Linked DNA regions of Homo sapiens: region 2 is linked to region 1. The links come from fine-mapping of genetic effects on gene expression. A gene starts in region 1. The other region holds a variant in brackets. All regions are shown on one strand. Distances are from middle to middle.

What was found.
Region 2: its variant is fine-mapped to the expression of IRF3 in prefrontal cortex (GTEx, PIP 0.93).

The regions. Positions count from the first base shown.
Region 1 is chr19:49,662,657-49,668,018 of GRCh38, reverse strand. It overlaps IRF3 (interferon regulatory factor 3), which reads left to right and starts at 2,162. Exons shown (of 8, transcript NM_001571.6): 1 at 2,162-2,388; 2 at 3,173-3,345; 3 at 4,505-4,676; 4 at 4,761-4,831. The coding sequence starts at 3,181. It overlaps BCL2L12 (BCL2 like 12), which reads right to left and starts at 2,086. Exons shown (of 7, transcript NM_138639.2): 1 at 1,952-2,086; 2 at 1,220-1,334; 3 at 858-1,000. The coding sequence starts at 1,326. RefSeq lists silencers at 1,914-1,993, 2,034-2,183.
Region 2 is chr19:49,642,107-49,647,468 of GRCh38, reverse strand. SCAF1 (SR-related CTD associated factor 1) reads right to left here and starts at 5,260. Exons shown (of 11, transcript NM_021228.3): 1 at 5,227-5,260; 2 at 2,335-2,448; 3 at 2,058-2,115; 4 at 1,267-1,361; 5 at 843-943; 6 at 639-754. The coding sequence starts at 2,442. RefSeq lists a silencer at 5,050-5,339. The variant G/T (reference allele first, on the strand shown) is at 2,465.

The DNA of each region.
Region 1 (5,362 bases):
CACTTGAGGCCAGGAGTTTGAGGCCAGCCTGGCCAACGTGGCGAAACCCCGTGTCTACTAAAAGTATAAAAATCAGCTAGTATGCTGGCGTGCACCTGTAATCCCAGTCACTCGGGAGGCTGAGGCACGAGAATCGCTTGAACCCAGGAGGTGGGGATTGCAGTGAGTCGAGATTGCACCCCTGCACTCCAGCCTGGGTGACAGAGCAACAATCTGTCTCCAAAAGACTGTCAGAGCTCAACTAGACCTTGAAGATGATCTCATCCAAGGAAGGCAAACACAAGACATTACTGTTAGTATCCCCTTCCCTCACTCACTACAGACATCACCAATTGATCACAGCACTTCCTCTCCCAAGCTGTGAACCCCTTTTCAAGCTAGCACTCCCAGCAGCCATTACTAGTCTGTCCAGGTTCACACCTATGAGGAAACTTGTGGGTCACCTTGATCAAGTCCAGTGACCTCCTCCCCAATTCCTACTCTGCTATTGGAAAAACAGGGGAGCAGGGAAGAGAAAGCATTTTCCCCAGAGTCACGCAACTAAAACAGCCAGGGAGATGTGATTGAAAACCAGCCCTTCTGCCCCTCTATCAGGGGTATTCCTGGCTACAAAAGTCCTAGGGGCAGGGAAGTAGTTATGGAAGGAAAGAGACAACAACCAGATTGACCAAATGCTCTCTGAAAGCCAACCCACAGAATTGACAGAAATCTAACTGGGGAGGGGAGAGGACAGGACGGTTCTGTCCTGAAGGCTGGTGCTAGAGACTCCACACAGCCACCCCCTAGCTGAGTGATCTTAAACTAGCACCTTATCCCGTGTTCTGCCGGCTTCATAGATGATCATGGAAATCTCTTACCAGGCTCTAAACCATAGCAGGGGCGGATGGGCAGAGAGCAAGGCCGAGGGGACTCAGAGGGGGCTGCTCCTCGCCCCAGGGAGCAGGGAAGACATCTTCGAAGGCGGCTCAGGAAGTCTGTTGGCTCTTCTTGGGCAGGGCTTCTGGAGAGGAGGACTTCAGAGACTGACCCCACCAGAGATCCCCTGCAAGCAGTCTCTTTCCCCAACTCCCTCCCTCCCCCGCTGAGGACCTCTCTCCAAAACCCCAAAGACAGAGAATAGAGCCAGATATAAAGAGAGGAGACAGACTGAGACCAGGAGCAAGAGTTAGGAGGGAGCCTCAAATGCTGGCCCCTGGGGGAGAAGGGCCACTCCTCTTACCTAGGTGGAGTTGGAACAGGAGACCCGGCAGCCTCACCACGCCTAAGGAAGGCAGCTAGGACCCTCAGCGTGTCTTCCCGGAGCCCCAGCTCTTCAGAGCCTGCCATGGAGGCACCTGTGAGAGAGAGGGTTAGGGACTGGACTCCAAGGGTTTAGCAAGAAGTGGAGGCTTGGGGACCAGGACTTGTGAGTCCCAAGGAAGGTGCTGAGGGCCTGGACTCCTGGGTCCTTTGGAGAGTGTGGGTCTGGGGGCCTAGACTCTTGAGTCCTCAGACGAAAAAGCGATCAGGAAAAAGACTCTTCGATCCAAGGAAAGGTGGTGGGGCTGGGTGCCCAGATTCGTGGGTCTAAAGGAGGAGGGAGCTGGGGTCCTGGACTTCTGAGTCTTAGAGAAAAAGGAACTGGAGCCCCAGACCCTTAGGTCTCCCAGGAAGAAGAGGCTTAGCGCCCCAACTCCTGGATTCTATAAGAGGCATATGCCAAACTCCTGAAACCCTTAAAGCATCGGGAACTACCAATCCCAAGAGGTTTCAGGGCAAATCTTCCCCTAGGTCCGCGCTTCTTCGCCGCGCAGCCTGCTGTGAGGTGTAGTTCCAAATCTCCGACCCCTGCTGGAATCTAGAGGACCCTGGACCCTTGGATATCAGAGAAGCGGGACTGGGGTGCCCACCACTGGATCCCGGCCCCCTCCTCTTCCCTCCTCACCCCACCCCTCGTCAACACCCCGCTGACCTGGTCCGGGGCCCCACCGCCGCCTCCTCCACTCAACTTGCGGTCTCCTCCACTGAACTCGTACAAACTTTATTAGTTCAACTTTCCCGCGCCTGCGCACTGGGCCGGGTCGATAACCGGCCCAGCGTAGAAAGGGCGGAACGCTGGGTGCACGCTCAATTTGCATGTGACGCTCCCAGCATGCCTCTGGCCGGAAACCCAAAAAAGGGCATAGGGGCGGGAACAGCCCAGCGGGCCGTCCCATCGGCTTTTGGGTCTGTTACCCAAAGAATGATAAAGTTGGTTTTATTTCAAGAAGTCGATCAAAAAGAAAGCCCCAGCGCTCTAGAGCTCAGCTGACGGGAAAGGGGGTGCGCAGCCTCGAGTTTGAGAGCTACCCGGAGCTCCAAGACAGGGGTGGGTTCCAGCTGCCCGCACGCCCCGACCTTCCATCGTAGGTAACGCGGAAGAGCCCGGGAGAGCGTTGGTGGCGTCCGAGAGCGAGGAGCGGGAAAGAGGATGGGTCTGCACGGAGAGTGGAAAGGCAGGCTGTGTACTCTGGGGAAAGTGGAGCAAGGAAGGAGCTACAGTGGCCGACGCTGGAGGTCGGCTGCAGAAAAACTAGAAAAAGTAGGGAGGAAAGAGGAAAAGAGGAGGCGTCTACACTGAGGGGGTTCTAGAGAGGGAGGGGTGGACTCCGTAGATGGGGGTAGTTCAGTCTCGAAACCTGGGGCGTGCTCTGTCCTGGAGGAGGGAGGCGGGCAGTCGGAGGGGAATTGAATGGAAGTTCTGTGTTGGAAATGTTTTGGGAGATCTTCTGTAGGGGGACTGTGGAAGGGGGTCTACATTGGGGTAAGTGCAGGAGGTAGAGGCTTACACGTGAATCGATTCTGCACTGAAATAACTAGGGAAAGAGGATGCTACCCTGAAAGTGGGGATACTTACTTTCGATGATGTGGGGGAGGGAGGAGGTCTATACTGGCGGAATTGAGGGAGTGGAGGGTCTGCACTGAAGACGCTGGGGAAGGATGTGCCATGGATATGGGAAGGAACCCTAGCTGATTAGAGAGCCTCTCGGGAGGATGGGAGGATGGGAAGAGGAGGTTTCCTGTTTGTACCCCCGAAAATATGGGTGAAGGACCTGTGCCGTGGCCCGTGAGAAGGAGGTCTGGGTGCGGAAACTCCAGGCCAGGTGGGTCCGGGGGAGGCCGGTCGCGCCCAGGAAATGCCCTATACGCGCAGGCCGGACCATGGGAACCCCAAAGCCACGGATCCTGCCCTGGCTGGTGTCGCAGCTGGACCTGGGGCAACTGGAGGGCGTGGCCTGGGTGAACAAGAGCCGCACGCGCTTCCGCATCCCTTGGAAGCACGGCCTACGGCAGGATGCACAGCAGGAGGATTTCGGAATCTTCCAGGTGCGTGCGACGACCTGGGACGCTGGAAACCCGGAGCTGCGCGCTGGGCGGAAAGGACTCCTAGTGGGCCCGGCTGAGAAGGCGGAGGTGGCGCGCGAGGGGCGGGCTCGTGCCAACGCTGGTGGGTGGGGCTAGAACGGGAGGGGCGGGGCTAGCCGGATCCGCTGACTGATGGTGGGGCGCAAGCAGGGTTGGAGCTGCAGGGTTACGGGAATAAAACCGGGAAAGCCGGTTAGTACGCAAAGGAAATGCATCCTGGGGGTTTGGGGCTTTCTAGAGGCCGGGGCTCTTGGTTGTAGGATAGATACTGGGGGATGGTTCTTGAAACATCAGAGGTGAGGCCTGGAGCCCCAAATCTGAGGTTCCTAACTACCGAATTAGTATATGCCAGAGGTGGTAAACAGTGTGAGGGGCGGGGTTATCACAGAGGGTGTCGCGGGGCAGGTGGTGCACGGGATTAGACACCAAGTTGGACTTGGAAGCCTGGCTTAGAAAGAAAAGGTTTTTGGGCCGGGGGCGGTGGTTCACACCTGTAATCCTAGCACTTTGCAAGGCCAAGGCGGGAGGATCGCTTGAGCCCAGGAGTTTGAGGCCAGCTTGGGCAACATAGGCTCCATCTCTTTAAAAACAAAAGCGAAACAAAACAAAAACCAAAGAGGTTTCAAAGGCTTTTGAAGAGGCCGAGCACAGTAGCTCATGCCTGTAATCCCAGCACTTTGGGAGGCCGAGGAGGACGGATCACCTGAGGTCAGGAGTTCAAGACCAGCCTGGCCAACATGGTGAAACCCCATCTCTACTAAAAATACAAAAATTAGCCAGGTGTAGTGGTGCCCACCTGTAATCCCAGCTACTCAGGAGGCTGAGACAGGAGAATCGCTTGAACCGGGGAGGCGGAAGTTGCAGTGAGCTGAGATTGCACCATTGCATTCCAGCCTGGGTGACAGGAGTGAAACTCCATCTCAAAAAGAAAAAAAGCCTTTTGAAAACTAGAGGTGGGGGATGGAGGTAGGTGGGACGGGGGGATTTGGGGATGGACCTTGCAGAGTTAGAACTTGCCAGGGAAAGAGGGTGGTGTTAGGACTCGGGAGACAGGGTTAGGGCCCCAGGAGCAGGATCTAAGTCGTCCTCCCCCACCATCCTGACACCACTGTTGCCCCAGGCCTGGGCCGAGGCCACTGGTGCATATGTTCCCGGGAGGGATAAGCCAGACCTGCCAACCTGGAAGAGGAATTTCCGCTCTGCCCTCAACCGCAAAGAAGGGTTGCGTTTAGCAGAGGACCGGAGCAAGGACCCTCACGACCCACATAAAATCTACGAGTTTGTGAACTCAGGTCTGCCAGCTTGGGGTTCGTGTGGGAGGCTGGGGCCCCAAGGGTTCCTGGCACTCCTACTCCCCTCACCACTTTTCTCAACAGGAGTTGGGGACTTTTCCCAGCCAGACACCTCTCCGGACACCAATGGTGGAGGCAGTACTTCTGATACCCAGGTGAGAATGTGCCCAACTTTCATGCCCCTCAGTCTCCGACCTGTCTCCATGGGCCTTGTCCTCTCCCTCTAGACGATCCCCCCACTCCCCTGCCTCCAGCCTGCCCCTCACCTGAGCCAGTGCTGACCCTGTCTGTCCCTGCCCCGGTCTCCTCAGGAGAAAATTCCAAGTCTTCACCCAGCATTCAAGGCCCGAGCACACCTTCCCGGGATTTCATGGATTTCGATTCGCAGGGGGCTGTCAGCCTCTTGGGAACTGAAAAACTCCCTCACCTTGATCCTGCTGAGGCCCAAGCTGGGGGAGCATCCCCTCTGAAATTCTACCCAGCCTGCTTTGCCCAGGTCTTACCTGCATAGAGCCAGATCCTTGGGTTGGAATGGTAGCACCTGGCGTTCATTAGTGTTTGTTTGGCTGTTGATGCCATGGCTGGCTCTGTCCCCAGGCTGGAAGCCCCTTGAAGGCAGAGCTCAAGCCTGACCTCCCTGCGTTGCTGAGAACAGACCTGGTCCATATGAAGTCTCCAGAAAAGGA
Region 2 (5,362 bases), 21 kb after region 1:
GGGCTCAGCAGCATGTATTGTTTAAAATGAAAATTCCCAGGTCCCACCCCAGACCTGCAGAATCAGAACTCTTGGGAGTGGGCCCAGTGATGTGCATAGTAACAAGTCCTCCTTGCAACTGAGATGTGCGTTCGCGTTTGGTCTAAAGGGCTCACAGGGTTACCGTTGTGTGTGGGGTTGGAGGAAGAGATTCCTCCTTGGGCAGCGCACATCTCAGACATCAAAAACTTGGGCTTCAGACTCAGACACACCAGGGCTCAAGGCCCAGGCACCCCACGGAGCATCTGGCTGTGCGCCCTTGGGCAAGTGCCTGCCCTTTTTCAGGCTGTCTGCTTCTCTGAAGATAGAGATTCGAAGAGTCCCCCTCCTGGGGAGATGAACGCCCAGTGCAGTGACACTAATACTTAGCGTGCCGAAACCAGTTGTCACACACGCTGACCACTCCCACATAGCCCCAGCACATCAGTTTTTACTTTATGTACATCTGTATGCGCCTACAGCCTTAATCACGTCTAATACGAAGAGAAGGGAAAGGTTTTGTCTAAATAACATGATCACCGCTACCATCACTACCAAAAACAGCCGATCCCCACACAACTCCACGACCACCTGCCCAGCTCCGCCCTGGCCCCACATACCCGTTTTGCCCGTCCTCCAGGCCCTGAGACGGGGCAGCAGGCTGGGCACAGGCAGAGGGATGGGATCTCTGTCCCCGATTCGGACCTCAGCCACCAGCTCCAGCATGTCCTCACTTCTGCAAGGCGGAAGGGGTGGGTGAGCCTCAGGGGTGCTTCTGGCTCTCACGCTGAGGCCTCTCCCACTCCAGCTGCCCAGCTACTCACTCGCCAGGCCGCAGGTCCAGGCGGCTGGGAACCCAGGTATCCGGGGGATCCAGGACACTCACCAGCCCTGCGAGGAAGCTGTCCGTGGCCATGTCCAACACCTGGAAGAGGCCAGAGAGGCTCTACGCCGTCCCTGGTCACATGAAGACTGGCAAATCCTGCTTCCCCACTCCCTAACCTCTCAGGAACCCAGACATCTAAGATCCCCAAGAAAACTGAGGATCTAATTCCTATAGCCTGACTGCCATCAACACTCAAAGCTCAGGCCCACAGATCAGGCCCCCAGACTCTCCAACATTGCCCCTGGTCAGCATCGCAGAGCCAGGAGTCCAGGTCCCCAAACCCCATTCCCCCAGACTCAGGCCCCCATCCCTTCCTCCCTGATACCCGTGAGCCAGGCCCCCAGCCCCCTCTTCTTACTCACAGTAGCCGTGTCAGTGCCCCCTGATTCCTGGGAACGGGGCTCTGACCGTGGACTCCGGCAGCGCCGCCATCGAAGGCCATGACACCGAGAGCCATCTGGTGAGAGATTTGCATGGGGGATTGGACACAGGGGACTTGCTGCAGAGACTTGCGGGGTAGAGGAAAGAGGAGCTTGATCTAGTTCCTGACAGCGGAACCAGCCTCCCGCATGCTCTCCAGGCCTCCATGCGCCACCTCCCAGGAGGACTTCCCAGCACCCACTTCAGAGGCTGCGACGCTCAGCCATTCGTCCTCCTGTCTGCCCTCAGACACCTCAACCTGGCATTCAGGCCTTGCTGGGATCCAGTCCCCACAGACCTCTCCTGCCTCCCCCAACCCCACTCACACCCTCCTGCATGCCAGCCCCAAGGAAGCCCAGCGCAGCCCCTCGCCGCTGCACCCGTGCTGTAGGCCTGCTGCAGCTGATCAGGCTTCCCTCTAATCCTAGGTCCTTAGACTCTTCTAGGTCCTTAGAGAGCCGTTCACTGTCCCTGCTCGGGGAAGGTGCCCTGACCCGTCTCCCACCATGCTAGCTCAAGTGGGCCTCCTGCCCTCTCCCAGCACTGTGCCTGTCTCCCTTCCACTGCACACTAGGCCCTTCCAAGGCAGCTACAGGGTGTCTGCCCATTTTTGGCTCCCCATGCCAGCACAAGGGTGGCACCCAGGAGGCTTCAGAAAAGCTTGTATGAATGACATTAGGATAAAGAATGCAGAGAGGGGGCAGGGGCTAAAAGGAACCGGAAGCCGCCATACCTTTATCATTGGGCAGGTCCCCCTGCAGGGAGCTTCCCACAGCCTGCTGGATGGCTCGCTGGGGAAGGGGGGAAGAACCAAGCGTCAGAGGACCCAGGCAGATGCTTTGCAACCTCTGCCCCTTGGGAGACAGACATCCCAGACACTGACAGCTAGACTCAAGTGCTTCAAGGGAGCCAAGAGTCCAGCGCCCCTGCCTCAGGCCCTGGAGTCAGGCCCCTGGAGTGTGGATGCCCAGCTCCTCCATCCCTCAGTGCCAGGAGCCCAGCAGCCTCACCAGGATAAAGGCAGAAGGAGAAAGCGTGGGGTCTCTGTCTGGCGGACCATCGCCCCGATCCTCCCCCGACTCCTCTGTCTTCCCTCGAGACTCATCTTCTTCCTCCATGGTCACCTGGGGGTCCAGGGGG[G/T]AGAGTTTGGAGTGGAGGTCCCGGGAGAAAGGATGGAAGTAGAGGATAGACATGAAGACCTCAAGGGCCCCACACTATCTCCCTCAGCATCCCCTCTGGCACCCCTCCTCTCCTCCACCTCCTCCCACTCCACCCTGTGCTTGGGTGGGCGCTGGACCCAGCACAGACACCCCAGGGACTAGGAGCAATTCTCTTCCTTTTTTCTGGGTCTCAGGTGCCTCTTATGTCAAAGGGAGGCCTCCCTGGCCTCCGCTTTTAACATCTCACTCCTCAATTCCCGCAGCTTCCCCAACAACCTATCCAAACTTCAAGACCTCATTCCCTGGCCTCCTAAGAGGCAAAGCCAACACCAAGGTTTTTTGTGTGTGCTGCACTGTGATTTCAAAGGGTGTGTTCCACAGTCCTATAAACCCACCTTTCCCAAGGCCAATGTGCTGGGCAATATTCAACACCATGCCTTAAACACCACACGGCTTCCTAGAGCATCAACTGTCCTCGATGGTGAGGACCACCCCCAAATTGTATTTATACACCTAAGTTGGAAACTTCATTGAGTGATCTGCAAAACCAGTATGCCATTTTTAAAATGAAAACGCTAAACTTCAGAAAGACATGCCGAAGGAAAACTTCACAGGAGGCATTTACCTATCGCCATCTGCACAAAGCCTTTGCAATGTCATGGAAATTCTTTGATATGATTCCCCAGTCAGGCAGTTGAAAGATCATCCATCAAACAGGTGGATGTCTTGATTAGGGCTTCAGAAAAATATGAATATTTCAGCTGTAAGCTTCCCCATGACTGTCAAATCTGCTACTCATAAGACAATATCCAATCTCAAAATTCCTAGAAAGCTTCAAAATCCCTAACCCACAACTCAGTATGCTTAATTGTAAATGCACGAAATAGGAGCATCTATCTCAGAGAATGGCTGTGAATACTCAAAGCCTGACTTCTGCCACACATTTAGAGCACCTCAAGTGCTCAATACGGATGAAGAGGAATGACACTATTAGCCCTTAACGCCCAGGTTTCCCCTACATCTGTCTCCTCGCTTCCCCCACAGCATGCCTGCAAAGACAAGGCCCTGGTCCTGTTCTAGATCCCATATAGATTTTCAAACCATGCCAAGCCTCCATATTCAGCCTCCCAGCTCCACCTAATTCCTAACTTCCTAAGACACACCCAACCCTGATAGTCTATTACATCCCAGCCTCTTTCACCAATACTCAATAAGCTCAGCCCCAGTTCCTGGCCCTGGAACTGCTCTCCAGCACCTCCCGGGGAAGCACATGCTACCTACAACAGTGACTGTCACATATCAGAAGCTTAATCAACATCTGCTGACTACAGGCTGAGGGATCCCCAAACCCTCTGCAGTATACAAAGATGCTTGCTTGCTCATTTAGAAAGCACCAGGCTTCGCAGACACACCCTCAGCTACTGAGATCTTCTGAACAGAAGAATGCTCTGCAGATACTGCTAGGTCCTATCTGGATCAGTGGTTTCCCCAACAACAGGGTCATATACCAGTTTAGTGCTTCACAAATAGCTTGTTTTAAAAAGTAAATAGAACAAAATAGTTCTTCACAGCACAGCACAAGTAGTAAGTGGAAATGTCAATTCGTGGAAGGTGAGTTAATGTTAATACATTATGTTATATAATGTTAAATACATTATGACTGTCTGTACCAGGTCTCAATGAAAAAATGTATCTTAATGCAGATCACGGTCAACATGGCCCAGGTTTCCCCTTGAAAAGCACTGTAATAGTGGGTCTAGATGACCCTCCAGACTCTTCCAGACTAATGTAGATTAATTCTAACTCTCTCAATAACCCCCAGGGTAATGCAGAATCTTAAAACATTTTTCATTTGAATTACTGTCTGAAGGGCAAGTATATCTAAGCTGGGCAAAATTTCCTCATTCTCTTTCCGTATTATTATTCGCCACAAGCTGCTCTGACCCCAAAGGCATTCGAATTTGCTCCAGGCATCAAAACTGCATTCCTGCAGTCACATTAAAGCCATCTAGATGGTTCCAGGTCCTTCTAACTGCCCCCAGCCTCCTGTCACCCATTATTAGACACTACCCATACCTTGGAGACCCCAGACCCTCAGTACATCTCAATATTTGGCGCCCTTCCCTGGTGGGCATAACCCAACCCCCTAGGGGGCCCTAAATGACTTCTTAGCCCTTGAACACTCCTTCTAGGCCTGATAAATGGCCCCAGACTTATGCAGACCAGTTGCATCCTCAGGCCAGCCCATGCAGACACTTTCCAGCCCTAAAAGACATACCCCAGGCCTCTAGATGGCTCTGAAGATACTCTTCAGGTCTTGCAGACCCTCCTTCACCCCTGGGACATATCTCAAGATCTCAAGATGGCCCCAGAACCCTCTAACCAGACCCTAGCCTCCGGTCAGCCCAAAAAGACAATCTACAGTGTCTACAGACACGATCCAGGCCAGCTGTGTGATGGAGGGCAGGCCTTAGGCTCGGTCTAGGCCCAGAGACGCCCCAAGTCCTCTCGGAGACGCCCCATAGACGCCCCCAGGAACCCACGGATGCGTCCCGGGGCCCTGAGAAGGCCCCCCTCTCGGCGCCAGGTTTCGCCGCAGCTGCCGGGCCCGAGACCGCCCCGAGAAGCCCTCTAGGACCCGTGGCTTGTGGGGAGGACCCCGGGACAACTAGCGACCCAACTCCGCCCCGCCCACCCCAATAGGCCCGAGCCCCGCGGCCCGGACTGCCGCCGCCATCTTACCCCGCCGCTCGGGCTGCGGCTCCGGCCCCGGCGCGGGGCGGGGCGGGCTGGGGCGGGGTTCGTGAGCAAAGGAGGAGAGAGGCGGAGCTAAAGCGCCGCCGAGCTTGCCGGGATTTCAAGTACCGAGCACGGCGAC